Regions from separate parts of the Homo sapiens genome. Here region 1 is linked to region 2. The links come from fine-mapping of genetic effects on gene expression. A gene starts in region 2. The other region holds a variant in brackets. All regions are shown on one strand. Distances are between the middles of the regions. Region 1 overlaps IL6ST (interleukin 6 cytokine family signal transducer). Region 2 holds the start of IL6ST (interleukin 6 cytokine family signal transducer).

Region 1 (8,000 bases), 47 kb after region 2:
AAAAAAGTTTAGGGCTTTGTATTAACAGAAACATTTTATCGCTTTTAAATAAAGATGTATCTCATTATGTTCAAATGATTTTATGACAAGGAAATTTTACTAGATTGTAAATGATTTTCAGTTAGCAAATGTGTTCACTCTGTTACAGCACCTTCCAAAGGACCTACTGTTCGGACAAAAAAAGTAGGGAAAAACGAAGCTGTCTTAGAGTGGGACCAACTTCCTGTTGATGTTCAGAATGGATTTATCAGAAATTATACTATATTTTATAGAACCATCATTGGAAATGAAACTGGTAATAAAACTGTATCAGTTATTAAGAATCAGTTATTTTTTCCTTAAGCTTTTAAGTACTAATTTAAGTCTGTTCTTCTTATACATCTTATAGTATATTGGCCTCAGGAGACACCTGAGAATTTGCCTTATGGTTACTTTCATGGATTTATTGAAAAAGTATTGTGTTGTGCTTTAGAACATAAAATTATGTCAGAACATTATAAAAGTTGTTTTCCAACAAAAATACTTCGCTTCTTTTTTAACACTTTCACAATGCCAAATATAGGCCAAATAAGCAAAAGCATTGAATAGTTGAATGAAGCACAGTTCTTATTTCTTCCAGCTGTGAATGTGGATTCTTCCCACACAGAATATACATTGTCCTCTTTGACTAGTGACACATTGTACATGGTACGAATGGCAGCATACACAGATGAAGGTGGGAAGGATGGTCCAGAATTCACTTTTACTACCCCAAAGTTTGGTAAGAAATAATGAAGTTTGGTTTTTTTTCTTTCTCAAACTTAGGTTAGAAATGAACTTAGTTTATGTGCTAAAATTGTGTTAAAAAGTACATCTTTGGATTCATGATGATTTTTATATTATCTGGCTTTGGTTGGTGGTTTCTTTATAGAAAGTGTTATTCCTCACCTTTTTGGTATTTTATTAACTGCTTCTGACTATATTCAGCTGTACTAAAAATCCTAAAAGAATTTGTGTATCTTTCCATGTGGGTTCATTTTTTTCACTGGTTTGGGTGTGTTCTTTCCTTCTCTATCCTCATTTCTTTCTTTTATTGAGAGATTACTTGAAGGACTAGTCCACTTTACAGTCTTCACTTCCGTACCTCCCACTCAGTATTTAACATACTGAAATTAGGGGTCCTACCCCACCCCTGCACTGAAACCTCTCTGGTGTCACTCAGAAGACCTCTTGATCATCATATGTACTGCATGCTTTTTAGTTTTCATCTTTTTTCTACTTTTTTTTTTTGGAGGCAGGGTCTTACTCTGTTGCCCAGGCTACAGTGGAGTGCAATGGCATGAACATGGCACACTGCAGCCTTGACCTCCTGGGCTCAAGTGATCCTCCTACCTCAGTTTCTCAAGTAGCTGGGACCAGTGCCACCACATCCAGCTAATTTTTTTTATAGAGATGGCTGGTCTCAAACTCCTGGGCTCAAGTGATCCTTCTGCCTTGGCCTCCTAAAGTGCTGGGATTATAGACATAAGCCACTGCCTCCAGCCTTTTCTGCATTTGACTCTGTTGGCCTTCCATCCTTGAAACTCCCTCCTCCCTTGGGTTTTCTAACCATACTTTTTCTGCTAGCACAGTCTCCTGAGTCTCCTTGTTCTTTGGTGTTTTCTTCTTCTTCTCCTTTTTTTGCTTTTTTTTTTTTTTTTTTTTTTTTTGAGACAGAGTCTCGCTCTGTCACCCAGGCTGGAGTGCAGTGGTGCGATCTCAGCTCACTGCAACCTCCACCTCCCAGGTTCAAGTGATTCTCCTACCTCAGCCTCCCACGTAGCTGGGGTAGAGGTGCCCACTACCATGCCTGGCTAATTTTTTGTATTTTTGTAGAGACGGGGTTTCACCATGTTGGCTGGGATGGTCTCGACCTCCTGACCTCAGGTGATCCACCTGCCTCGGCCTCCCAAAGTGCTGGGATTACAGGCATGAGCCACCGCACCCGGCCTCTTGACCCTGTTTTCTTACTTGCCTATTCAAACTCTGTCCATGGCTTTAGCCATCTTCTCTTTCCTTCCCAAATACATTTTCCCTCCCTCGTTCTATGCCAAAGCCATAAATTTAAATGTGATTACAATAAATGTATTTGTATATTTTTCTCTCACATAAGCTGAGTGTCAAGTCCTGTTGATTGTGCGTACCCTTTCATCATCATTTTCTTCAACTGCAAGCTCCTCATGCTAACTTCTCTTTTCTTAGTGCATTGCCCCCAGTGAGGTCTTCACCTCATCATCTGGCTCTTCTGTATCTTCCCTAAAGCAAACTTAACCAACATTCTTTCTTGCTCCCCCTACATTTTGAATCATTATAGAAAATTACCTTATTTTACCATAATTGTAACCCCCACCCCCAAGTGCCAGCCTAGTTAATGATAAGTAGTAAATTCCATGTGCCTTGTTGGTTGAATGCTTGCTGAATGAGGGAATAAATGAATGAGTGACTACATAAAATAAATGATAAAAGTTCCTGAGCTTTGCTGTTAGGGTCAGTAATGAATATAGTTTCTGGGATAAGGTTGGTCCCATGTGGTGGTATGTTAATAGGTATGTTATTTAAAATAAAACTTTATACCATAATCTTGAGAAAAATTAAAAAATAAACTTAAAAATGTATATTTTATGTATTTCTGTGGAGACCAGCCATCTCTACAGAGCTTTGTATATATGTATGTGTGTGTGTACACACACACATAAAAGCCCATATGTATATTTTTTGTTTGTTTGTTTTTGAGACAGAGTCTTGCTCTGTCTCCCAGGCTGGAGTGCAGTGGTGCAGTCATAGCTCACTGCAACCTCAAATTCCTGGGCTCAAGCAATCCTCCTGCCTCAGCCTCCCAAGTAACTAAGACTGCTGGTAGGCACCACCATGCCTGGCTAGTTAAAACAATTTTTTTGGTAGAGATGGGATCTCGCTGTGTTGCCCAGGCTGGTTTTGAACTCCTGGCCTCAGTCCTCCTGCCTTAGCCTCCCAGAGTGCCGGATTACAGGTATGAGCCACCATGCTCAGCCTAAAATTTTTTTATTACATAGGTGTTCATTATAGGGAATTTAGACTGTACAGTAAAATGTAGAGAGGAAGAAAAATTAGTCCTAGTCCCTTACCCCAAAATAACATATTTGTGTATCCTTTTAGTGTCTTCTTTGTATATATTTTTTTCCTAAAATTAAATTATACTTAGTATTATTTTATAACCTACCTTTTTTCAATTCTCTATCTGTAGTCTCATGGATCCATTATGGCTTCTTCACATGGC[T/A]TGAGTCTTGCCAACGAGGACCTTACAGCTTAGTTGAAGAAATTTTGCATAAGTAAATCAGAAAAAGGAGAACCTGTGGACTATGTAGACAGTAAATAGAGTAGGAATTTAAATATACCAGTAGTGGATAATTTTACCTTCAAAGGTTTTATGAAGAAGAAAATACTTGAGCCTTGAGTTAGTATGTGGACAAATAGGAAGAAGGTGGCATCTTAGAGAGCAGCATGAGCAAAGGCACAGGCTTGAAAACATAAAAGCAGATGTTTAATAAAGCAAAGTTTCTGCCTAAATTAGATTTGGCATTTTATATATATATACACACATACATACCCATATCAATATATATATACACACATATATCAATATATACACACATAAATATATATACATACACCCATATATATATATATATGATGCTTAGCATTTAAGAGTTAATATTTGCCAACCCATAGTTTATTCTCAAGCATTTAACTGATTTCTTGATTTCTACTGAGCTTCATAGGATGTTAGTTACTTACAAAGGGATATGTGTGGTGGAAGGATAAAATTAAGTGAATAGTATATGGCTGCAATATTACTTTCATACATTTTTTACTGTAAAAGACTAAGTAAAATTCAAAATTAATCAGGACAGTCATTTAAAAAATCTCCAATGTTAATTATCCCAATTAGTGATTAATTTGATGAACAAGTCCTCTTTTAAATGCAGATGAGGATTTGTGTGGTATTTAGGGATCTTAGGCTTGTTTACTTTTTAGTTTATTCCTACTCGTGCCACTCCTCATGCCCATTGAGCAGCTCCTAAAGTTCTTAGCCCTGTACCAGCTATATCCTCCTTTTGAAAAATGGTAAATAACTCTTAAAACTTCTGAGAGTTGCATTTTTATTTTTTAGAAGGTTAAATGTGTAGTTCAATTATGTTTTTATAGCTTTTCCATTTTACCCAGTATTTATATTTGTTCTGACATAATTTCTCTGTTATACAGTATTAGAACTCAGAGATAAACTTTTACTAAGATTCTACCAAATGCAGATCATAAATGTTACAAATGGTTATGTTTGAAAGCTCTAACCCAGTAGATTACCCGATACACTGATCATTTTTATCCCCCAACCAACATATATTTTATGCTATGCGGCCAGGTTAATGTATAAGACATAAATGGTTGGGATGTGATTTACCAAAGAGAGAAGAGGGTAAAAATCATCAAGTCTGAAGAGACCTTGAAAAATAATTAGGATTGTATTTTATCTTTTCAACAGTAAGTCTGGTTGGGAAGTTGTATTATGTCTTCTTAGTTCATATGTCAACATTATTTCCCATCACACCTCTTTTTTTTTTTTTTTTTTTTTTTTTAAGCTCAAGGAGAAATTGAAGCCATAGTCGTGCCTGTTTGCTTAGCATTCCTATTGACAACTCTTCTGGGAGTGCTGTTCTGCTTTAATAAGCGAGACCTGTAAGTAACTTTATTCATATTTTTGCATTTTCCCCCAGCTTTATTGAGCTGAATTTACATGCAATAAAATTTATCCATTTTAAGTGTACAGTTTGATGAATTTTTGTAATTACATACAGATGTATAACTACCACCATAATCACAATATAGAACATTTTCATCACTTTTATAAAGCTTCCTTGTTCTCCTTTGTAATCTGTCTTCTTCTCAGCCCAACCCCAGGCAGTCATTGATCTGCTTTTCTGTAACTGTAGTTTTGCCTTTTCTAGAATTTTTATTTATCTATCTATTTTGAGACAGAGTTTCACTCTTGTTGCCCAGGATGGAGTGCAGTGGTGCGATCTCAGTTCACTACAACCTCTGCCTCCCTGGTTCAGACTCCTGCCTCAGCCTTCAAAGTAGCTAGGATTACAGGCGCCCACCACCACACCCAGCTAATTTTTTGTATTTTTAGTAGAGATGGGGTATCACCATGTTGGCCAGGCTGGTCTCGAACTCCTGACCTCAGGGGATCCACCCTCAGCCTCCCAAAGTGCTGGGATTACAGGTGTGAGCCACGGCCAAGAATTTTATATAAATAGAATCACATAGCGTGTAGTCTTTTGCGTATGTCTTTTACATAATATTTTTGAGATTCATCCATGATGTTGCATATACTTCTCCCTTTTTTTTTTTTTGAGATGGAGTCTCACTCTGTTCCCTTACTGGAGTACAGTGGCATGATCTTGGCTCACTGCAACCTCTACCTCCTGAGTTCAGGTGATTCTCCTGCCTCAGCCTCTTGAGTAACTGGGATTACAGGCACTTGCCACCATGCCCAGCTAATTTTTGTATTTACAGTTGAGACGGAGTTTCATCATGTTGGCCAGGCTGGTCTCGAACTCCGGACCTCAAGTGATCCACCCACCTTGGCTTCCCAAAAGTGCTGGGATTACAGGCATGAGTCACCACACCTGGCCTACCTTTTTCCTTTTTATTGCTGAACAGTATTCTGTAGTATGGATATATCAAAACTTAGACTGATCTGTTATGGAAGTTTAGGTTGTTTCTAATTTTTAGCTATTATAAATAATGTTGCTATGAATATTCACATACAAAACTGTGCGAGCATATGTTTTCCTTTATCTTGAACAAATAATAGGAGTGAGAGTGCTGGGTCATATGGTAAGTATATGTTCAACTTTATAAGAAACTGCCAAACTTTTTCAGAGTGGCTACACCATCTTGGATTGCCTCCAGCAGTGTTCCATATTATCACCAACACTTAGTGCTGTCAGACTTCTTTCATTCTAGTGGGTGTGTAGTACTATATCGTTTTAATTTTCATTTCTCCGATGACTAGTAATGGATCTTTTCATGTGTCACTTACATATTTTCTTTTGTGATGTGTCTATTGAAATCTTTTACCCATTTTCAAATTGGGTTATTTTGTTTATAATTGAGCTATAAGAGTGCTTTATATGTTCTGGTTACAACATTGTTAAATACGTTTTGCAAACTTTTGTCCCAGTCTGTGCTTTGTTTTTTTGTCTTAACTGTGGCTTTAGAAAAGCAGAAGTTTTACGCCTGTAATCCCACCACTTTGGGAGGTCAAGGCGGGCGGCTCACAAGGTCAGGAGATTGAGGCCATCCTGGCTAACACAGTGGCTAACATCTCTACTAAAAATACAAAAACTTAGCCGGGCATGGTGGCACACGTCAGTAATCCCAGCTACTCGGGAGGCTGAGGCAGGAGAATTGCTTGAACCCAGGAGGCATGGGTTGCAGTGAGCCAAGATCACATCACTGCACTCCAACCTGGGTGACAGAGTGTCTGAAAAAAAAAAAAAAAAAAAAAAAAAAAAGCATAAGTTTTTTATTTTGATGAAGTTCATTTTATCAGTTTTTTTTCTGTGGTTCCTGAGTTTTGTGTCCTGCCAAACACAGTATCAAAATATTTTCTCATGTTTTCTTCCATAAGTTCAATAGTTTCAGCTCTTAGTCTATGATCCATTTCAGGTTATTTTTGTGCATGGTGTGAGGTCAGGGTCAAGGTTCATTTTGTTCCTTCAGATGTCTAATTCCATTGTCATTTATTTTGAAAAGAGTGTCTTTTCCCCATTGAATTGCTTTGGTACCTTTGCCAAAAGCAATTGTCTTTATAAGTCTGTATCTATTTCCATACTCTCACTTCTGTTTCATAAATGTATATATGTCCGTTCTTATGCCAATACCACATTGCCTTGATGAGTATAGCTCTATAGTAAATTTTGAAAATAGGTAGAATTCTTCCAGTGTGTTCTTTTTTTAAAGAAGTTATTTTGGCTAGGTTCTTTGCCTTTTCATATACATTTTAATTCAGCTTGTCAACTTTTTTAAAACTATAGTTTTGATTGGGATTTTATTGAATCTATAGGTCAGATTTAATTGAATCTATAGGAGAGAACTGCAGTCTTTTTTTTTTTTTTTTTTTGATTTAATTCCTCAGCTAAAACAGCGGAAGAGGTGATTTATTATATGGTTGTTACACTCGGCCACAAATAAACACAGAAATAGTCCAGAATGTCACAGGTCCAGGGCAGAGGACCAACATGGGCATTTTGTTTTTGAGCAAGGTGGGTCTCAGAGGTGATCGGCGATCAGAGGGCGATGAAGTTCTAGATCCATTGAGACAAGCTCTAGACAGTAGCATGCAGTCCCACAACTTGTACCAGCATCCCCAGCGTCTGGCATTCCATGTTTCTGCTCCTGTGGCCTCCACGGTGCAACAAGCTAGCGGTTTACTTGGACCTCTGCCTCATCTTTCTTCTTTTGCGCTTCAGCCTGCGCATTCGCTTCTTCCTCCACTTGGCTCTCATGGCGCCGAGGTTTCCAAAAAAATGGCGCTAAGGCCGAGAGAGAACTGCAGTCTTAACGCTACTGAGTCTTTCAATCCGTGAACCTGGTTTATTTCTTTATTTATTTGGGTTTTGTTTAATTTACTTTTGCAGTGTTTTGTAGTTTTCAGTAGACAGGCCTTGCATAACTTTTTTTGAATTCATGACAAAAGTATTTTTTGTTATTATAAATGAAATGTTTAAAAATATTTTCTAATTCTTAGTATATAGAAATGCAATTGATTTTTTAAAATATATTCATCATGTATACTGAGACTTTGATAAATTCATTTATTAGTAGCTTTTTGGATCCTTAGGATTTTCTAGATACACAATCATGCTTCTTGGGAGTAATTATAGTTGTTCTAATCTTTATGCTTTTAGTTCTTTTTATTGTCTTAATGCACTGGCTAA
Region 2 (17,155 bases):
TACAAATTTTTGAGTCAGCAGTTTGGAAAGAATTCAGTTAGGCAGTTCTTCTGCTCTATGTGGCATTGACTGGGATCAGTTAGTATTATTCATCTCGTGGCTGGTCTGGTATGGAGGTTCCAAGATGGCTTTACTCACATGCCAAGTTCCTGGGCAGGGTCACTAGGAAGACTGGGATCAGCCGGGCCACTCCCCCTCTCCCTGTAGTCTCAGCTCTCTCCAGATGGTGTAATAAGGTAGATGGACTTTGTACACAGTGACTCAGGACTTCCACAGACCAAGGTGAAAGCTCCTCTTAAAAGCCAGACCCTGAACAAGCCTGCCTAAATTCAAGATGAAGGGAAATAGCCCTCAAATCTCTCCATAGAAGAGTATTGAAGAATTTGTGGCCATTTTAAATCCACTACAAGGTATAAAAATGTAGAACTGAAAGTAGAGAGAGGCAACTGACTTCTTATAATGCCCAGTTTCTGAAGTATTTATGTATGAGTACTTCCAGAATATTCTCTTAACATCTTCCTCATAGCACTGTAACATGGCTATGATTTTTGTATGATTGTTGGTTTATGTATTAGACTTTTGAGCTCCTCAATGAGGACAACACGTGTGTCTTCCTTAGATTAATATCTCAGTGCCTGGAACATAGTTGATGCTCAAAACTTATTGAATAAATAAATTGAATACATTAGAATGGTGGGATCCCGTCTTCACAACACCAGAGCAGCGTTCTGCTTGATATAATTTCCTTCTCCAGATTCGTATCTTCTTATGAACGTAAGAGAAGCTTGATTTAAATGTGTAGAAATAGTATCCATTATAAATATTTATGTGAATAGCTTTTAACTTTTCCCTGTTGTATTAGTTCTCCACTACATAACAAATTATCACATACTTGGCAGCTTAAAACAACACACATTTATTATCTCAGTTTCTGTGGTCAGGAGTCTAGGCACAGTTTAGCTGGGTTCTCTGCTTCAGTTCTCATGAGGCTGCAAACAAGTTGTTAGCTGAGGATGCTGTCTCATCTGAGGCTTGACTGGGGAAGGATCTGCTTTTGTTGGCAAAATTCAGTTCCTTGAGGTTGTAGGACTGAGAGATTTGGTTTCTTTCTCTCTTTTTTTTTTTTTTTTGAGATGGAGTCTCGCTCTGCCACCCAGGCTGGAGTGCAGTGGCGTGATCTCAGCTCACTGCAACCTCTGCCTCCTGGGTTCAAGAAATTCTCTCCCTCAGCCTCCTGGGTAGCTGGGATTACAGGTGCCTGCCACCACACCCAGCTAATTTTTGTATTTTTAGTAGAGATGGGGTTTCACCATCTTGGCCAGGCTGGTCTTGAACTCCTGACCTTGTGATCCACCCACCTTGGCCTCCCAAAGTGCTGGGATTAAAGGCATGAGCCACTGTGCCTGGCCGGGAGATTCAGTTTCAAAGCTAGCTGTTGGCAGAGTCTGCCCTCAGTTCCTTAACATGTGGGTCTTTCCATATCAAAGCTCAAACATGGCAGGCAGCTTGATTTTTCAGAGCCACAAGAGAGAGAGAGACACTAGCAAGATGGGCACTATCTTATATAACTCAATGACATACATGCCTTCACACTCAAGAGGAGGAAATCACACAAGGAATACCAAGAAGCAGGAGGTCATAGCATTTCTCCTAAGAGTCTATCTGTCATATATCCTTACATCCAAATAATGACTCTCATAATTTGATATATCACCAGATAAGCTTTGTTTCCAGTTTCATTTGACCCTGACATTAAATTTCATTTATTTATTTGTTAATTATGGAAGATGGCCATTCCGTAAATCCTGTGAAAAATCAGAGGGGACAATTATCAGAAAATTCCAGCCCTCTCAGGAAGTATATCCATTTCATTTTTACTTTACAGTAGGGACTGCCTTCCTCTCTTAAGGAGACAGATACACATTTGCCTAAACCATTATTTAATACAATTAGTACTAGATCTTTCTTCAGATCCTATGTAGGGGGCTGGGAATTCTTAGCTATACAAGCTCACACAATATATTTTTTAAAATTCATGTTGATACTTTTTCATCTATTTGGTTTTAGCACAAGTATCAGACTGGCAGCCAAGGAACCTATTTTGTAACTGCAGAATATTCTTTCCAGGAAGACTGGTGAAAGGAGAATCAACGAAGGAAAGCCCTTGCTTCTCAAACTCCCCCTGATAATATTCTGAAGCAAGTATAGTCCATTCCAAAGCTACAGTCCCAATACCTGACTTCCTTATCCTATGTATGTGTCTAGGAATAGGATGCACCTAACTGCTGCTCACATGTCTTGCACTGGCCTTTCCTTCTCTGAAGCCAAGCTTCCCTCTCAAAGAGTAACTCAAAATCATTGACCAGCCCATGGCTATTTGACCAGGGTTATCCCTGGAAGTCCACAGTATGGAGATCTCTGAGCTAGATCCCTTCCTCTGTGTTTACCTTTACAGAGCAGTGCTTATTTCTTTCTTTTTTTTTTTTGAGACAGAGTCTTGCTCTATCACCCAGGCTGGAGTGCAGTGGTGCAATCTCGGCTCACTGCAAGCTCCACCTCCCGGGTTCACACCATTCTCCTGCTTCAGCCTCCCAAGTAGCTGGGACTACAGGCGCCCACCACCACGCCCAGCTAATTTTTTGTATTTTTTAGTAGAGATGGGGTTTCACCGTGTTAGCCAGGATGGTCTCGATCTCCTGACCTTGTGATCCGCCCGTCTCGGCCTCCCAAAGTGCTGGGATTACAGGCGTGAGCCACTACGCCCGGCCACAGAGCAGTACTTATTTCATTTTAAACTCTCTTGGTTTAGTATATTCATTAAAATAAAATAAGTAAATATATTACGTTGGTGTAAAATTGTGGTTTTCACCATTAAAAGTAATGGCAGAAATTACTTTTGCACCAACCTAATATTAAGCCTAAGAAGTTTCAGATTCTTTTGTAGTTTATAAGCCTGATGATTGGGTTTTCATGTGCATGTGTGAGATGTGCCTCCCGCAAACCTTGTTACGACGTTGGCACATTACCCATCTGATGTGAAAAAATTTTTCTGTACACTTTTCAAGTTTAAAAAGACAGCATAAAACTATTGTAATGCCCAACCTTGTTTTTACTAACCCTGTTTTTAGGCTTGTTTCCACCTGAATTGACTCTCCCTTAGCTAAGAGAGCCAGACAGACTCCATCTTGACTCTTTCACTGGCAGCCCCTTCCTCAAGGACTTAACTTGTGCAAGCTGACTCCCAGCACATCCAAGAATGCAATTAACTGATAAGATACTGTGGCAAGCTATATCCGCAATTCCCAGGAATTCGTCTGATTGATAACACCCAAAGCCCTGAGTCTATCATCTTGTAATAGTCTTAAAGCCCCTGCACCTGGAACTGTTTACTTTCCTGTAACCATTTATCCTTTTAACTTTTTGCCTACTTTATTTCTGTAAAATTGTTTTAACTAGACCCCCCTCCCCTTTCTAAACCAAAGTATAAAAGAAAATCTAGCCCCTTCTTCGGGGCAGAGAGAATTGTGAGCGTTAGCTATCTCTCGGTCGCTGGCTAATAAAGGACTCTTAATTCGTCTCAAAGTGTGTCGTTTTCTCTAACTCGCTTGGGTACAACGCTATGACATTAGAATAGTGGTCAGTTATGACCTTCCAATAACTGGATGGGAGGAGGGCCCTTTTGGGGTACTGGTCATTTTCTGTTTCTTTTTTTTTTTAAGACAGAGTCTCACTTTGTCACCAGGCTGGAGTGCAGTGGCGTGATCTCAGCTCACTGCAACCTCTGCCTCCCGGGTTCAAGCGATTCTCATATCTCAACCTCCCGAGTGGCTGAGACTACAGGCGTGTGCCACCACGCCTGGCTAATTTTTGTATTTTTAGTAGAGACTGGGTTTCACCACGTTGGCCAGGATAGTCTCAAACTTTTGACCTTGTGACCTACCCGCTTTAGCCTCTGGCCTCCCAAAGTGCTGGGATTACAGGTATGAGCCACCGCACCCAGACTATTTTCTATTTCTTTCTTTTTTTTTTCTTTTTGAGACCAAGTCTTGCTCTGTCACCCAGGCTGGAGTGTAGTGGCTCACTATACAACCTTGGCTCACTACAATCTTGGCTCACTACAACCTCCGCCTCCTAGGTTCAAGCCATTCTCCTGCCTCAGCCTCCCCAGTAGCTGGGATTACAGGAATGCACCACCAAGCCCAGCTAATTTTTGTATTTTTAGTAGAGATGAGGTTTCACCACGTTGGCCAGGCTGGTCTCGAACTCCTGACCTCGTGATCTGCCCGCCTTGGCCTCCGGAAGTGCTGGGATTACTGGTGTGAGCCACCGTGCCAGGCCTTCTGTTTCTTGATATAGATGATAAACATGAATGTGTTCATTTTGTCAAAAATTTTCAGGCTGTACTCTTATGGTATGTTGATTTTTCTGAATATACATTCTTCAAAACATTTTTTGAAATAGCAGTCATAATGGTTTTGAGTTTTGTTGCTATGAAATGAATTTCTCTTGTCTTCTAGTTTGGAAATTTAAGTTCATTTTTCATTCTCACCTCATTTTGTTAAGTGAATTTCAATGTAGCTTAACATTCTTCATTTTTAGACATTTAATTATTTTTAATTTTGGTGAATTAGGTGCTATCAGGTTACAAAGGTTTTAACACAGGCAGAGAGGCTGTCCTCAACTCACCACTGAGTTAATATCTAATTTTTAAACATTTCAAAGTCATTTAGTGTTAATAATGAAAAATATAAAACTAGGGGACTAGACTTAAAGTAGTACCAAGAACAGAGGAGGAGAAATTAACCTTTTAAAAGTAAAGGGGCCTTTCTTCCTCTGAGTGGGGAAAAGAGAAAGAGGATAAATATCTATTTGCTTCCTAAGTTGGAGAAAAGTCAAGGATGCTCACAAATGATGGTCTTGATTTTAAGGGAGTAAAACAAGGTTCTGTACTAAGAATAAATGTTACGGTGGGGCTGATAGCTCAAGGAAAAAGGAAATAGTTAGGAAATAGCCTGATAAGGTAAACATAGCTGAAGGTCAAGGGAACTGAAGAGAATAGTGCAGTTAAAATGGTTGATAAAAGGGTTCTTGGGGGGCGGTGGCTCACCCCTGTAATCCCATCACTTTTAGGAGTTGAGATCAGCCTGGCCAACTTGGTGAAACCCCGTCTGTACTAAAAGTACAAAAAATTAGCCAGGCATGGTGGTGAGCACCTGTAATCTCAGCTACTTGGGAGGCTGAGGCAGGAGAATCACTTGAACCAGGGAGGCGGAGGTTGCGGTGAGCCAAGATCGTGCCATTGCACCCCAGCCTGGACAACAACAGCAAAACTCCGTCTCAAAAAAAAAAAGGGGGTTCTTACTGGTAAGTAAGATAAAAAATGATAGGAAACAGCTGATAAACTATGAGAAGAAAGACTGGCTGTCAGGCTGTCACATTGAGGACAAATTACAGATTCAATGGGAATGACCACAGAATAGAGATAGATGGGGGTAGGTGGCTGTAGGTACAGAGAGGGAAACTCACAATCCAGCATTTTGGAGGGGAAGTAATTTCATTGATGACTAGGTTGAAGGTGTGGCTCCATCTGTGGGTTGCTGATACAGAGTGAAGTTGAAGATGATTGGAAAAGAAAACGATGAGAAATTGTGAGGTCAGAGTGCTAATGAGTCATGAACATGGATGCTGAAATCATTAAGGTGATACAGAACATGAGGATAATTCCAGGGCTGACACAGAATTTCAGAAACATAACTGGGCACAGACAAGGAAGTAAAGGGATATCCTAGTCAGCACCAGATTTAGGGAATTAGAAATGCAGGCAAAGTTTGTCTTTGACATTTATCACCTTTGTTCCATGGCACAATTTCCTAAGCTTTGCTCACTTACTCCCAAGTAATTGTAATTTTGGTGCCTTCATGTTACTTTCTCACTGTACAGTTTCCTCAATCTCTTTTTTTTTTTTTTTTTTTTTTTGAGAAGGAGTTTTGCTCTGTCACCCAGGCTGGAGTGCAGTGGCAGGATCTCAGCTCACTGCAACCTCTGCCTCCTGGGTTCAAGTGATTCTCGTGCCTCAGCCTCCCAAGTAACTGGGATTACAGGCACCCACCACCATGCCTGGCTAATCTTTGTATTTTTAATAGAGTTGGGGTTTCACCAGGCTGGTCTTGAATTCCTGGCCTCAAGTGATCCGCCTGCCTCAGCCTCCCAAAATGCTGGGATTACAGGTGTGAGCCACTGCACCCGGCCTGCTCTTGACATATCTAAAATCTCAAATGGTCACAGGACACAAATGGAGAGTTCTCCATTAATATACTACTTTCCCCTACTTACCTTTGCATTTTGACAAGGCTTTCTAGTAACAAATCCTTAATCTGAAATTCGTAATTTCAAGGCCAATACTCTACAGAGGTATCTGCAAAGTCATGTAATTCCAGCACAGCAGAGGTCTTCCGTCCTGTTGCTCTGAAAAATACTTCTCCAATATTGATTCATCCTTTTGGCCTCAGACTTTAACTACTCCCATAAAATGTGAGTTTCTTGGGAGCAGGACCTGAGCTGAGCCAATAAAAAGACACCCATAAAAGCACTAACTCAGTCATTTGTTTTCCTAATGGTGCCAAGGCAGGCTGGTGTGTTGTGACATATCAATCCACTTCTGTGTACCTGCCCTTCCCCGTCCAGCAAAATATCATCATTTTTAATATATGTTGTGATACTAAAATATTTCAGAAGTGTTGACCGAGTAGACATTCAATAATGATTATAGCTGATACTTACAGAGCACCTACTATGTGCCAAACACTGTATGTATTTTAACTCATTTAATCCTTGCAACAATCCTGTTAGGTTGGTATTGTTATTCTCATTTTGCAGATGAAGAAATTTGAAAAGACTTGCCCAAGGTCACAGAGATGAGAAATAGAGGCATCAGCATTTAAACCTAGGCAATCTAGAACCAGAGGGTACATTTAACCACTATACATCTCCCCTAAATACATCTTTGCATCACACCTGTTATCTCAGCACTTTGGGAGGCCACTAAGGCCGGAGGATCGTTTGTTGCCAGCAGTTCAAGACCAGCCGGGTCAGCATACCAAAATCTTGTCTCTCCAAAAATTTTAAAAATTGGCCAGGTATTGTAGGGGCACCTGTAGTCTGAGATACTTGGGAGGTTGAGGTGGGAGGATCGCTAGAGCCCAGGAATTTGAACGTGCGGTGAGCATGATCCAGCCACTGCACTCCAGCCTGGGTGACAGAGTGAGACTGTGAACAACAACAAAAAAATCAAGTTTCCTGGATCTATACAAAATTTTCAATTTAACAAATTTTTATAAAAATTTGTTTTAAAATAAACACCCCTCTAAATGGCAAAGCTAGAACAGAATCTGGTCACAATCTATAGGTTAGATATAGGATGACAGGGAGGAGCAAGAGCTGAACACATCAGCTGCAGCACCATCTACTTTGCCTGCGACTCCGTTAGCAGGCCCACTTTGCCCTTTTATAAATTATCTGATCAACAACTAAGAGATTAAAATTCGATCTATGTTTTACTCTATCTGAATCCTCAATATAATGAAGAACTTTATAATTGTTAATTTATGGATATAATTTAAGTTCATTAAACCATTATTTCCTTCCTATATCCTCTCATTCTTCCACAAAAACCTCTACCTTTGGGTGTTTACTTTTACAGACACCCACGCACACACCCCACACGCACGCACGCACATGCCTTATCTTTTAACTCAAGATTCTCATCTTCCTTTGGGGAGAAACAAACATCATGAGCCTTGAGGTCCATTTTCTGAGGGAAAGGGGGGGGCGGAGGCGGGATGAATAGGTTTTTACCCGGTATTTTTTATCATAAACGGGGAGGTACAAACCGCAAAGAAACACTAGTCGCTTGGTGGGCCACCACCTCTGGGGCTCACTGATCAATCGCACCCAAACTCATTTACTAATTTAAAAAAGTACTGTGGCAAGGCTCGTTTACGTAAGTCTTGGAGAGAAGCCGCCGCCACAATCTGCCGCAGTCTCGTGCGGAGTCACGGCCACCGAGCTCTTCACTTTCCCCAAGAGGCTCCCACGCCTTCCCCATCCCCAAGGGAGCTAGGCGGTCCCTCGCGGCTCTGAGTCCCTCGGGGAAGGCCGCGAAGAGAGGCCGCAGGCGCCCTGGCGAGAAGGGAGGGCGGGGGCAGCGGGCGGCGGGCAGCACCCGGGCTCCAGTTCATGACCCCGTTATTCCACAGAAAAATGGAACATTCCGCTCTTTCCGCCCACAGAGGGGAGGTGGGGGGAACCCTTCGATCTAGTCTGGGAGAGGCGACGCGGACGCAGCCACCGGAATCCGGGACGCGAAGAGCCGCGTTACGGGAATCGCTACCCCTCGGAGTCCCGCCCCCTCGTCGACAGGCGGCCACTGGACCAATGCCTGGGCGCAAAGGGTCTCTCAGGGGCCAATCAGCGCCTAGGTCCCGGTAGGGGGCGGGGCGCAGCGTTGGCCGGCCGGGGGCGCAGCTGGGCGGGATTGGGGAGCGCCCCGCCCCGCCGCGGGACTGGGGTGGCGCGCTACCTCTGCGGAGAAGGATCTGACAGTGTTCCGGAGCCGGGGCGAGCAGCCAAAAGGCCCGCGGAGTCGCGCTGGGCCGCCCCGGCGCAGCTGAACCGGGGGCCGCGCCTGCCAGGCCGACGGGTCTGGCCCAGCCTGGCGCCAAGGGGTTCGTGCGCTGTGGAGACGCGGAGGGTCGAGGCGGCGCGGCCTGAGGTGAGGAGGGGCCGGGTGCTGGGTCGCGTAGCTGGAGTTAGAGTGTCGGTGGTTTCGGACGGGCTATCTGGCACTCGAGGAGACCTCCCTTCCCCCTGAGAGCAGCGCCCGGAACTTGTCAGCCCAGCCTGGAAATCCCCACATTCCTTCCCCTTCCTGCTCCCGGACCTCCGAATTCTACTTCCACAACTTTGTCACCTCGATTATCGCAGCCCTGAGTACAAACTTCACCCAGGCGCACGCACGCACCCCTCTTAACGCCCGCCCCGCAGAACGCCCTTCAAGAACAAACCCCCCTTTTTGTTACCAGATCCCACGTTTTTCCCAATCCCCTTTTCATCTCCCCTGAAATTCTATTCGCTCCGCACTTGTCTTCATTCTCGAGGTGGATTTCCCTTCCCCAAAGCCGTTTTTTCATCTTGAAATCGTAACGTTTCAGCTTTGTTGAAAGTTCACAATGCTTATAAACACTATTAACGTTTCTTTCCTTCTTTTGATCTTTTCTATTAATAATTATCATTCCTAACGAATTCCACATCTCACTGTATCCCAAGGAGAACAAATCAGTTTTTAAAATTTTACCTCCTCCGACCTAAACTTTTGAAGATAGTGCAGGAAGCAAGGGTCTGTTCTTCAGTGGATGAACAGCATTTTATTTCATAATCCGAAACTGAAAAAAAAAAAAAATCACAGGTTAAAAATAAGACGTCACCTTTTTTTTTTTTTTTTTTTTTTGCCTTCAGAAGGAAACGCATTTTGGCTTAGTTTGTGAAGTATTTCAACAATTATACTGCCTTAAAATAACTAGTTATTAGAATGCCAGGGTGAATTTTCTGAAAGATTGTGGTATTTGCTTTTGACAGTGCTGTAAACAAACCCTTTAAACTGTGTATGACTGCCAGCTTCAAGTTGGAACAACTCTTAATTTGAAATTACGGACTCAGATCATCAGTTTAGCTGTGTGCCATTATGTTAATTTCTTAAATTCATGTTAATTCCTATTTGGAAGTATTTTTGAACTATGAACTGAAATATTACATTTATAGAACCAACTTGCTATTAAATTGTGCTTTCCAACTATTTCTCTTTAGGGATAATCTTGAACGTTTGTTTTTAATCTTGAGTGAAAGAAAAAAATTACAGGAAGGAGAAAGTGTCAAAAAGGACAGACTGTAGTGGGATTTTTTTCTTATTTTAAGTATGTATTGACAATACCAGTTTAATTTTCTCACAGGCAATTTAGATTATTATAAATACTGCTGCCACCTAATTTAATATAATATAGTCTTACGTAACTAAAAATGTTGTTCTCACTCTTATTTGTGAATTGCAGTATTTTCAATTTATTTAAATTTGTTTCCAAGGCTTTGCACTTCAGTTCAGTGTTAGGGCGAAAGTTAAATACATGTGAAGTAGGTGTTAAAATGTCCCCTTTATAGAGAAGGAAACAGGAGTCTCGCTGAAAACTAGATCTGTGTGACTCCAAATCCTGTGCTCTGAATCATTTTGTCATGTTGACACGTTTCTCATAAAAACCCCAGTGCCACAATTTGGTTTGGGAACTTAAGGGCAACCCATAAATCCTCTACAGTGGCAGGGAGGGATTCCCCGCTCCCTCCTTTCAGAGCTGCTCATTTTAATGGGAGTCAGAATTCTCTGGCCCTAATACATTTGCAGCTTGGCTCCTAGAGAAGCATGGAATGTTCTCACAGCTTCTCCGTTTCTTTGATTGCAAAGGCAGAATGATCAGAGTTGAGGTTCCTATTGTGCTTTATTATTTTACACAGCAAATACTAAGCAATTACTACCTGCTGTACGAACTCACAAAGGTGCAGGAGATGTAATCAGGACCTTCAAAGAGTTTATAATAATTGGATTGACAAACTTATACGAAAAAAACTACAAGGATGCAAAGCAGTTTTAATTAAATGCAGAGTGATGCAGAAAATCCTGTAGATATTAAAATTAGGGAATGATCGTTTAAGGATTGGAGTGAGCATTTAAGGATTGGAATGAGCAAAGGATTTACCAGAAGTTGGCCTTGAAACCTGGGTAGGATTTGGATAAAGGGAAAAATGAAGACAGCCCATTAATAATAGCGAATGGAGGACAAAATGTAGAATGGAGAATATAGAACATAATATAGGACTAGCTTGTGGAAAGGATCAGCAGTAACTAAGGTCTATTAATTAAAACAGGCAATATATTTAGTGCTTATGTTGTGCCAGTTGCTGTTTTGAGCACTTTGCCCATATTAAGGCATTTAATCTTCATAATATTATGAAGTAGGTCTAATAATAATAGGATAAAATCCTCTTTTTACACATAGGGAAACCCAGGCACAAGAAGGTTAATTAATTTGCCCAGCTAAGTGGTAGATCTAAAGGTCATACATAGACAGCCTGGCTTCAGAATCTGACCTCTTAACCATGATACATCCTGCGTCTCCATACAGTACGCTTGAGCGACAGCGAGTAGATAGAAAATAAGATCATACCAGAAAGTCTATAAAAACCCACCCTTAATTGTCCACCAGGTGCCTCAAACTATGGTAGATTCTGAGGATATCAAGATATGTGAAACAATTACTGTGCAGTGTTCTGAGTCCTGTTAGGGAATGATGTAAGAGTACACTGACAGCAAAGATGTTTGAAGTGGGGGGAAATTCCATATAAGAGATGATACTTCAAAAGCAGTTTGTAGTGCACAGCAGAGTCAGGAAAGACATTGGAATAATATATGTAGAAGCACAGACTGAAAGAACAAGGTATGTTAGAGGAAGTCTAGTGGTTTGCTGAGTCTACAGGGATGGTTAGTAGGGAGTGATGAAAGATAAGACCGAATTATAAATGGCATGGTGTGGTCAAGCAAAATGAGGAGCTTAAGTATTTGCTTTGCAGTTTGGAAACTACAAGAATAATTTCAGCATTATTGGAGTAAAAAAGCCAGATTGCTTGCAATTGCAAGCAGTTCTCTCTAGAAGTATAGTAGTAAGGTAGCTTGAGGGAGGAGTCTGAGGAAAGGATTTTTTTTTTTTTTTAGAATAGAGAAACTTGAGTATTGGAAAAGATAGATTGGATAGGCACATCAAAGCCAAAATTTTAGGTTCTTAAATAGTTAGAATATTTGGCATTATTATTCACCCTTTAAAAAGCTGTTGAGGAGAAGAATGACAGGTTTAAAGTTGTGTTGTAGAGAGAGTGATCCACCAACAATGTTCAGAATGCTTGGTGGGGAGGAAAGAGACTGGAAGCAGGAACACAGTTGAAATTATTGAGGTGATCAATGTCCAAATTAGGTTAGTTTGTGGTAGAGAGTAAAAAGAAGAGATGGGTGGGAAAGATATTATGGGAGAGAAGACAGGATAAGATTTGTAACTGAGAAAAGCTAAAATGTACTGCATAGATGAGAGAAACGATGGACTCCATTGACTTAGGCAGTTGAAGAGGATGAGTTGTTTGTAGATAGGGAAAAATGGTAAGTCCTTGTGACTTTTTAAAAAGTGTGTGGGCATTCATCCCATTACTGGGCATATACCCAAAGGATTATAAATCATGCTGCTATAAAGACATACATGCACACGTATGTTTATTGCAGCACTATTCACAATAGCAAAGACTTGGAACCAATTCAAATGTCCATCAATGATAGACTGGATTAAGAAAATGTGGCACATATACACCATGGAATACTATGCAGCCGTAAAAAAGGATGAGTTCATGTCCTTTGTAGGGACATGGATGAAGCTAGAAACCATCATTCTGAGCAAACTGTTGCAAGGACAGAAAACCAAACACCGCATGTTCTCACTCATAGGTGAGAATTGAACAATGAGAACGCTTGGACACAGGGTGGAGAACATCACACACCAGGGCCTGTCATGGGGTAGGGGGAGGGGGGAGGGATAGCATTAGGAGATATACCTAATGTAAATGACTAGTTAACGGGTGCAGCACACCAACATGGCACATGTATCATATGTAACCTGCATGTTGTGCACATGTACCCTAGAACTTAAAGTATAATAAACAAAAAAAGTGGGTGGGCATTTATGTGTATATGTGTTCATGAGCATGTACCTATGGTGTATTGTTTTTAGACCTCTTAAATTGATAAGACTCAGAGACAGAATATCTAAGAAGATGAAATGTAACTGGAATTAAAAGAAAGATCCAAGCCAAAATTCTTGAAATTATTTTGTTTGAAGGTAGTAGTTGAAGTCATGTCTTCAAAGAAGTTGGTATTTAAAAAGAAAAGTCGATGCCCAGTACTTTATCTTTGGGTACCTTCATAGCCTGGAGATAAAAGCTAGCAGAGAATTCAGTAAAGGAGACAAGAAAGAGGATAAAGGAAAGAATTCAACTACATTATCTGGTTACATAGAAACCAGGATATAGGAGAAATTCAAGAACCAGGGATGGTCAACAATGTGAAAGGCTTCAGAAACACTTGTGATATATATAGTCAAAATGGCTACAGTCTCTTCTTCTTCTTTTTTTTTTAAACTTTGCGGCTATCTAGTGTATCTTAGTAAGATTTAATAAGAAATTAGCTGATTGATCGTGAATAAGAGAGCTACATTGGCTGAAAAATGGCTATAGTATATAGATGATTGTTTTAAAGCTGTGTGTATACATATCCAGAGCAGGAGATTCATTCCTTTCAGCACTGTAAATCTGTTGCCCTGTTACATTTGGAATGTTCTGCCTCCAAAGTTTCATTTTCTTTTAAGCAATCAGCTTCACCCTTTGCTCTAAGGTTGATTGATCTGCTCAGTCTTTTTTTGTTTGGATGTTCTGTTTTATGTATTACCCCCAACCCCACCCCCTAGTGCAAAGTGAGTTAATCAGAGCTATGTTTCAGATAGCATAGCTCTGGTTAGACTGGCATGCTCTGGGATTTTGTCATTGGTAATCTTCACTTGACAATTAGAGTCAAAGATGATGTAGAGTTCATATGTGTGCTATTTTCTCTATCTAGGAACCCCTACCCTTATTTTAAGACTGGGCGCTCCTGGCCCCTGTCTGAATTGGGTATTTTCTGTGCTCCTGTGGCACTTTGTGCATATTCTGCATCTCTAAACTTTGGACTTCTTAAAGGCAAGAACTATTTATATGGCTTCAATTATGTTTGTAACGGAATAAAAATTGAATAAAAGCTTGAGCTTTTATTTCTTAAGCAATGGTGAGAACATGGATGTTCATCAAAGTGCTCTGTAAACCTTTTCATTTGGCTAAAATAGTCTAATTTTAAAAGGCCCTAAGGTCATAAGCATATTCTATGTGTTTTTCAATATGCTTATAATTTTGCTTTTGCATTTAGGTCCTTAATCTGGAGAGAGAGTGTATGCTTATACATGCATGTGCACGTGCATGAGTGTGTGTCTTTTTGTCTGATGAAATGGGGTTCTTTTTTTTCTTTTTTGCTTATGGAGCCAGTTGTCCCAATACTATTTATTGAATAGTCCTTTATTTTCCCAGCAAATGAGCAACCTTTTAAAAAATCAGATACTAAATTCTTATATACACTTGAGTGTGTTTTGTTTTGTACCATTGATTTAGTTGTCTATTCATTTGCCAATCAGTGCTATGTTTACTTTACCTTTAGACTGCCCTTTTTTTTTTTTTCTGCGAGACTTTTTTTTTTTTTGAGACAGAGCCTCGCACTGTTACCCAGGCTGGAGTACAATGGCAAGATCTTGGCTTCTTAGCTTGCTGCAGCCTCTATAAGCCCAGGCTCAAGTGGTTGTCCCACCTCAGCTTCCTGAGTAGCTGGGATTACAGGCATGGTCCACCATGCCCGGCTGATTTTTTTTTTTATTTTTTTTTTATTTTTTATAGAGATGGGGTTTTGCCATGTTGCTTAGGCTGGTCTTGAACTCCTGGGCTCAAGCAATCTACCTACCTCGGCCTCCCAAAGTGCTGGGATTACAGCCGTGAGCCACTGCACCCAGCCTTCTGTTACATTTTCTAATTAGTTATTACTGGTATGTAGGAGAGCTTTTTTTTTTTTTTTTGGAGATGGAGTTTTGCTCTTGTTGCCTGGGCTGGAGTGCAGTGGCGACATCCCGGCTCACTGCAACCTCCGCCTACTGGGTTCAAGTGATTCTCCTGCCTCAGCCTCCCAAGTAGCTGAGATTACAGGTGTGCGCCACCACTCCCGGCTAATTTTGTATTGTTATTAGAGACAGGGTTTCTCTATGTTGGTCAGGCTGGTCTCGAACTCCCAACCTCAGGTGATCTGCCTATCTCGGCCTCCCAAAGTGCTGGGATTATAGGCGTGAGCCACCGCGCCAGCTGGAGAGCTATTTTTTGATGATGTTTTGTTTGACTGTTATGTTAAACTCTAAATAGTCCTATTATTTTTTGATGATGTTTTGTTTGACTACTGTGTTAAATTCTCAATAGTCCTAATAGTTTGTCATGTGATTCTCACTCTTTCTTGATAGATGATCATATCATTCACAATTTATTTTCCATTTTTAGATCTTATTTATTATATTTTTGCTTAAGCCCTTTAGAGCAGTGGTGAATAACTGATGACTTCAAGCATCTTGTCTGAATCTTGACATTAATAGGAACGCTTCTAATTTTTACCTTTAAACCTATAGATGCTTATTATAGGTTTCTTTCTTCCTTTTTTTTTTTTTTTTGGAGGCAGAGCCTCACTCTGTCGCCCAGGCTGGAGTGCAGTGGTGCATTCTCGGCTCACTGCAACCTCTGCCTCCCGGGTTCGAGCAATTCTTCTGCCTCAGCCTCCCAAGTAGCTGGGACTATAGGTGCCCACCACCACGACCAGCTAATTTTCATATTTTTAGTAGAGACAGCGTTTCACCATATTGGCCAGGCTGGTCTCAAACTCCTGACCTTGTGATCCACCTGCCTCGGCCTCCCAAAGTGCTGGGATTACAGGCGTAAGCCACCATGCCTGGCCTTGTAGGTTTCTTATAGTAGTACCTGTGGCAGCAACAGCAAGAGCTGCACTAATAATAACAGCTGTTAACCTTTTATTGAGTAGTTACAATGAGCCAAATGATTCTAAGCACTTTATGTATAATGAGTTATTTAATCATCATAACATTCCTAGATGGGTAGGTGGTGGTGGTACCCCATGTTTACAGATAAAGGAAGTAAAAGTGAAGGCTATTTAAAAACTTGCCTAAGATGTTAAAATATAGGGACTGAAATTTGAACACAAGCAATCTGGTTCTAGAGTCCCTGTATCATCTTTGTTATCCTTCACCAAGGTAAGGATGGTCTCTTTCAGTCTTAGTTTTCTGACACTTTGTTGTTATTTTTAAGTTTTAGATGAACAGTTGTTGAATGTTATCAGATGCTTTTCAAACATCTGTTGGAATGACCCTGTCATTTTCCTTTGGTCTGTTAATATAGTAATTAGCAGTATCTTTTCTCATTTTGAACTGTGCTTATTTTAGGCTAAATACTTGTTAGCATTCACACTTTGGTTTTGTTTTCAAATCTATTTAGACTTTTCTCTAACCATACTACAAAAAAATGTTAAAGGCAGTTTTTCAGGCCCAAGGAAAATGATACCAGATGGAAATACGGATCTATACAAAGGAATTAAAAGCTCTAGAAATGGTAACCACACGAGTAAATATGTGCCAGTCTCACTCTGTCACCCAGGCTGGAATGCAGTAGTGCAACCACAACTCACTGCAGCCTCGACCTCCAAGGCTCAAGCAGTCCTCTCACCTCAGCCTCCTGAGTAGCTGGGACAACAGGCATGCACCACCACAGCTGTCTAACTTTTTATTTTTTGTAGAGGCGAGAGTCTTACTATATTGCCCAACCTGATCTTAAACTTCTGGGCTTAAGTGATCCTCCTGCCTTGGCCTCCCAGAGTGATGGGATTTCAGGTGGGAGCTACCAATGTGAAGTTTTAATATATGCAAAAGTAAAATATATGCTAAAATAGCACAAAGGTCTGGGGGGAGAAATGGAAGTATACTATTATATACTATGCCTGAGGTGACATAATATTACTTGAAGATAGATTGTGAAAAGTTAAAGATGTACACTATAAACCTAAAGCAACCAATAAGAAAACAAAGAATTATAGCTTATTAGCTAACAAGGAAAAGAGAATAAAAAATAATTAAGAAAAATAAATGCAGAAAAGTAAACAGGAACAAAGAACAGTCAAGAAGAAAACAAATATGAAGCTGATAGCTTTAAACCTAATCATATCACAAATTATATTAAATGTAAATGGTCTGAACACCCAATTGGAAAGCAGAGATTATCAGATTGGATACAACCACATGCTGCCTACCCCCTAAAGATGCCACTTAAATATGAAGAAACATACAGATTAAACAAAAAAGAATGGGAGAGGATATGTCATGATAACACTAATCAAAGT

What was found. PIP is the estimated chance that this variant, and not a neighbour inherited with it, causes the effect. A credible set is the group of variants that fine-mapping cannot tell apart.
Region 1: its variant is the best candidate, but not a certain one, in a credible set for the expression of IL6ST in whole blood (TOPMed, PIP 0.56).

The regions. Positions count from the first base shown.
Region 1 is chr5:55,944,224-55,952,223 of GRCh38, reverse strand. It overlaps IL6ST (interleukin 6 cytokine family signal transducer), which reads left to right. Exons shown (of 17, transcript NM_002184.4): 13 at 149-295; 14 at 620-760; 15 at 4,635-4,731. Among named protein-coding and RNA genes, the nearest start is that of IL6ST, 47 kb to the left of the region's middle. The variant T/A (reference allele first, on the strand shown) is at 3,275.
Region 2 is chr5:55,986,399-56,003,553 of GRCh38, reverse strand. It overlaps IL6ST (interleukin 6 cytokine family signal transducer), which reads left to right and starts at 8,591. Exons shown (of 17, transcript NM_002184.4): 1 at 8,591-8,770. It overlaps IL6ST-DT (IL6ST divergent transcript), which reads right to left and starts at 8,387. Exons shown (of 2, transcript NR_102755.1): 1 at 8,000-8,387; 2 at 1-1,805. It overlaps LOC124901197 (small nucleolar RNA U13), which reads left to right and starts at 2,933; the gene lies at 2,933-3,036. RefSeq lists enhancers at 99-393, 8,038-8,549, cis regulatory regions at 8,138-8,811, 7,505-9,823 and a silencer at 8,381-8,860.